Regions from separate parts of the Homo sapiens genome. Here region 1 is linked to region 2. The links come from fine-mapping of genetic effects on gene expression. Tissue or cell type: gastroesophageal junction. Region 2 holds a variant in brackets; the other region holds the start of a gene. All regions are shown on one strand. Distances are from middle to middle.

The links. PIP is the estimated chance that this variant, and not a neighbour inherited with it, causes the effect.
Region 1: PHF19 starts here. The variant in region 2 is fine-mapped to the expression of PHF19 in gastroesophageal junction (GTEx, PIP 0.99).

The regions. Positions count from the first base shown.
Region 1 is chr9:120,875,977-120,878,656 of GRCh38, forward strand. It overlaps PHF19 (PHD finger protein 19), which reads right to left and starts at 1,212. Exons shown (of 15, transcript NM_015651.3): 1 at 1,115-1,212. RefSeq lists enhancers at 49-640, 1,652-1,701, 1,962-2,011 and silencers at 232-681, 962-1,011, 1,252-1,531.
Region 2 is chr9:121,740,864-121,743,543 of GRCh38, forward strand. All of the region lies in intron 3 of DAB2IP (DAB2 interacting protein), which reads left to right. Among named protein-coding and RNA genes, the nearest start is that of DAB2IP, 91 kb to the left of the region's middle. RefSeq lists an enhancer at 1,799-2,498. The variant A/G (reference allele first, on the strand shown) is at 1,536.

The sequences.
Region 1 (2,680 bases), 860 kb before region 2:
CGCTGGGCACCTGGTGTTGTGACTATCTGTTCACAGGGAGAGAGTCCAGTGCCTGTTTCTGTGTGGTGCGTGTGTGTACTCCTGTGAGACTGGGCAGGATGATGTCTACGGCATTGTGCCAGGGAGTGTGTGAAGCTAAGTATGTGCGGGGCCCTGGGGCGAGCCAGGCACTGCAGGGGTCTCGGCTCCCCAGATGGTGGCGTGGCCACGACCTTCTCCACCCCCACTCCCATCTCCTTTTTCTCCAGCGCAGAGCGCACAGGCTCCCGGGCAGGGGATGCGGTCTGAATCCCTGTCCTCTCCCTGCCACCTGGCTCGCCCGGCGCTGCGAGGTCCCCGCCCGCCCGGCCAGGGGCCAGGCCGGGGCCGCTGCAGGTTCACAAACTGACACTTCCTCTCCCGCTGCGCCTCTAGGAGCCGGCCGGGTCGCCGCACCCGCCTCCACCCTGGCCGGGCGGGGGCCCCCGGGTGGCGCCCCCCCAGCCCCCGCCTCCGTCCTCCCGGAGCGGGCCCCCGCGGGCTGTGATTGGCTGATTCAAACCCATTTGCAAAGAAATGCCTGTTTGCGGGTTCCCGTCTGCGTCCAGTTCAAATCCGCGGCACCGGGAGCGCGGGGCCGGGCGGGGGCAGGAAGCGAGGATGATTCATGCGCCGGGGCCTCTCCCAGGGCGGCCGTTGGCTTTTTAAAAAGGATGTTCAGGAGGGGGGAAAAAGCTTGCAGAAGCACCCCCTTCGGGTTCAGCGCTCCTCTCCTCAGTCGCTCGGACGCCAAGCCTCCCCCATCCCAACCCTGCCGCAGCCTGACTTCGGACGTGAGCGAAATGCCAAACGCCCGTCTGTCCTTCCCCCACCCCGATAGGAAAATTAAAGATCGGGGGCGAGGAAGAACGACCTGTCACCCATGCCCCCCGGGGCTCGGGAACCCGGGTGGGGCCCCTCTGCCCCGCAGGTAACCTGCACCCCCGGTCCCCACCCCCGAGAGCCCCGCTCCGCAGGAGTCTCACCCCCCGGAGGCGTTCGGGCCGCCAAAGTTCAGGGAGATTTCGAAAAGAGAGGGATGAGGGCCGGGAGGGGAGAGCGTGGCGGGGAGTCCGCCCAACAGCGCAGAACTCACCGCGAGGCTGCGTGTCCGCCGGTCCCACTTGGAGTCTGGCCACCAGGCGCATCGGTGGCGGAGGCGGCTGCGCTCGGCCCGCGGCTGCCCGGCCGAGTGTCCGCCCGTGGGGCCGGGGTCGGGGTCTCGGCGGGGGCGGGGCGGGGCGGGGGCGCCGCGGGGAGGAGGGGGAGGCGGCGGAGGGAGGGGCCGGGGCGCTCAGGAAGGGGCCCCCCGGGCGCGGGGCGCCATCTTTTTCGCGTTTTCCCGCGAATTATTGACGTCCCGCTTATGTAATTAGCGGGGGCCGCGCCGGCCTCGCCATTGGAGCCCGCGGCCGCCGGGCTCCGCAGCGCCGCCAGCCCCCGCCCGCCCCCGCCCGCCCCGCGGGCGCGCATCCTCCGCGGCCACTAGCCAGGACCCGGGCCCCCCGCCGAGGAGCGGCCACACCGCGGCGCACACGGAGACGCCAGGCAGCGCTCATGGCGCACACGACCGCTCGCACACTTGTTGAGGAAACACAGCTCTGCGCGCAGGCACCGGCGGACCCTGGCACAGACACACAGCAGGGCGGCGCGGACCCTTGGCGCAGACACAGACCCAGGACGCCCAAACAGGCCACACAACACCTTGCACTAACAGCACAGGCGTTCGGCACAGAGACACAGCACAAGTATAATGTAGATACACAACACACAGTGCACAACGCATGTTGTTCCGACACAGGTCAGAACACACCACAGCATGTACAGGACACAAACACACCACAAAGAGAAGTACTGTACACACCAGCCATAGGCATAGATACACAAGGGGGAACACACTGTACACAACAGAGACACACAACAGAACATGCATGTAAGGTAGACGGACATAACACATAAAGTCACAACACAGACGGGCAAGAGACACAAGTTTTCCTGAAAAAGTGGCATTCAGATAGGTTGTGGAAATAGGTTAGTGGGTGTGCCAGGTGGAGGGAATTCAGTGGGCTAACAATGCAATTTTTAAAATACGGGTTAAGGATATCAAAAGGCAATTCACAAAAGAGGAAACCTACATGGCCGAAATAGCCCCAAACAACAAATTGCGTAGAGACACAGTGCACAGAAATACATGGTACAATCGCAAATATATACCACACGCACAACATGTCATGTAAATAAAGGGCACACAATGAAAGACAACATGCACAGAGTCATAGGAATGGCAGATGGAGTCAGTGGGCAGAGCTCCAATCATAGGGACCCTGCCCTGTGGGGGAAAGGCAGACATGGCCCCACCCAGACTCACTCTTGGGGGAAGGGAGGAAGAACACTTACCAATAACCCCACCCCCATCCTTGCCCTCAGTCCACAGCGCCCACCTCTGTGGCTACCATCCCACTCTGCAGACACCCCCACCAGACAGGGATATGTGCTTTCATGGGTGTGGCCAGTGGACAGCACCTTCCCCCAGAGCCTTCCCTGTTCACTGTCAGTTGCTCACTCTGGGCCCTCTGCCTCCTGGCCTTGGAGCATGATCTGTGCAGCCCCCCACCTCACCTTCTCAGCAGAGATCCAGGAGTCCTTTCACCTCCTTCCTCAC
Region 2 (2,680 bases):
GAGGAAACTGAGACTCAGGAAAGTAAAAGGATTTGTCCAGGGTTCCACAGTTGCTAAATGACACGACCAGAATTGGAGCCTGGGCCTGCAAAACCCCCAAATTGGGCCTCTTCTTACTGACTAATCCTGGGGGTGAGGTAGTAAGGGTGGAGGTTAAGGCACCCAGGTCTCCTACTACCTCTCAAGAATAGTGGCCAGATGTTCTGCCAGGGCTCCAAGGCATTCCTTCTGCCTCCCACCCACCTGTTTCCTCTGATGCTCGACACCCCCTCCTCTCCCCACATGCGCACCAGATGCATTCGGCTCCAGGAAGATAGGATGAGGCAAGCCTTGAACCTTGTCAAACCTTGGGGATGCTTGCGGCAAAGCCTGTAGCTTTTGGGGAGGCTGTTTCTGCAACAGGCGTGTAGGGTGGCCCTATGGCTGATGCAGAACTCCCCATAGGTAAGGTGAGCTCAGCCGGATCACATGCCATGACCACACGTGAGCATGGAAGACAAACCCAGAGAGGTCTGGAGGCAGGGCCCCTCCCGGAGAGGCAAAGCCACTTATGCTGCCTCCTGACAGCCTGTGTGGCTTTAGGCTCTCGCTTCCCTCCTGCTCTGCCCCTCCTACTCACCCAGCAGACTTGCTTAGTCTGGGCTTGGGTAGCCGAGACAGGTTGTTTTCAGGCCTCAAAGGATTTGGGCCACAGCCCAGCCTTTCTCAGTGTTTCTCACCTTCTGTCCTTGTCTCCTTATGGGACGGAGCAGGCATCTGGAAGGTGGCAGAGGGGTGATCCTGCCTGGAAATCACTGAGGGTCCTTTTATAGAAAGAAACAGGCTGAGAGAAAGAAATGACTTGGCCACAGTCACTACCCAAGAGGCTAGTTTCCTGTTTGTGCCTCCAGCTATCCTGGGGCAGCTTCCTTCACCCCAGCTGAAAGCAGGCTTTTGTTACGCGCTCACTCTCAGCAAGGCTTTGTTCTGTATCCTCTCGGCAATCCTATGAGGTAAATAATATTATGTCCATTTTTGAGGAGGAAACAGAGAGGCCTAGGGAGGTGACTTAACCTGTCCAAGACCACACAGGTTACAAGTGGCAGAGTCCGGGTTTGAACATAGCCTGGCTTCAGAGCTCATTTTCTTTACCATCAGGCTACACATTCTGAAACTTATTTGGCTTCCAGGCATCACAGAAACAGAGTGAGGGTGCTAAATCCTTGAATGACTCAGCCCCTGTGGAGTTGGACCTGAAGACGCCTCCTGGCCTTGGCTTTTCTGACCAAAGATAGCCACACTGGGCAGGGCACGGTGGCTCATGCCTATAATCCCAGCACTTTGGGAGGCCAAGGTGGGTGGATCACCTGAGGTCAGGAATTTGAAACCAGCCTGACCAACATGGTGAAACCCCGTCTCTACTAAAAAAATACAAAATTAGCCAGGTGTGGTGGCCCATGCCTGTAATCCTAGCTACTCGGGAGGCTGAGGCAAGACAATCACTTGAACCCGGGAGGCAGAGGTTGTAGTGAGCTGAGATTGCGCCGTTGCACTCC[A/G]GCCTGGGCAACAAGTGTGAAACTCCATCTCAAAAAAAGAAGATAGCCACACAGCACCTACTGTGGGCCCAGCCACTCCAGGTGCCAGAATGGCCCACGCTTCTCTGAGGGTGCCGTAGACCAGGTGCTGAGACGCAGACAGTCCAGTCTCTCTTCCCTTCCTCTCCCCATCCCACTCCTATTCCAGTAACTAGGCAGGCCCTGCCCACCCTTGCCCCAGGAGAAGCTCCACTCTTGTGGACAGTGGAAGGGCCTCGGCCAGCTTGCCTGAGTCCTGGGCTTGGAAGGACGGTTGCCCCCATCTGCCTTGGTTCCCTGCACCTGCCTTTTCTTCCCCGCATCCTCCCTCTGACTGCCCGCTTTTCTCTGCTTTCACCTTCCCCTAGTGTTCCTCTTCTTTCGTGTTGTGTCAGAAGCCATGATTTCCAGTCTTCTCATCTGGAAGATGAAGGAAAAGATAGACCCGACCCCACAGGGTTCTGAGGCTCAAACTGAAAGCCTGGTGGTGGGGCACCTGTGACAGGTGAGACTCCTCATCTTGCCCCCTTCTTTCTTCATCATGAAGAAGAGACACTGGAGGATGTGGAGCAGTTGGGGCCTGTGGTCCAGGTGGGATGGAGCAGTCAGGGCCTCGTGGAGGGAGCAGGTGGGAGGAATACTCTGGCTGGGATGGACCTCACGGGGTGTGGCCCAGCTTTGCAGCTGACTTGCATGAAGTCCTGGCGAGCTGGGGAGCCCTTGCACCCTCAGCTTCCTCATCTGAAAGATGGGGCAATGGTAATGCCTGTCTGTGGAGTGGTGAGGAACAAATGAGACTGGGCCACAAAGTACCCAGTGCTGTGCCCAGCACATAGTGCCCAAAGAGGGCTGCTATCTCATCTCTTATTCCTGAGATTTAGCTTCCTTGTTTTGTTTTTGAGCTCTTTGGGACCTTCGTGGACTTTGAATTTTTACTATTGTTCATTGTGTCTAAAATCTTCCTCAGAAGCCGAGGGCCTCTAACCTGATCATGAATTTTGGAGTTTCGTTTTTTGTTTTTTTTTTCTTTCCTGTTTCCTGTATAGGAAAAAGGGACCTGTACCTTTAAGACCCCAGCAGGCCCAAGTAGGACACTGGCCCTTTAAAAGCACATTACAGAGAGTTGG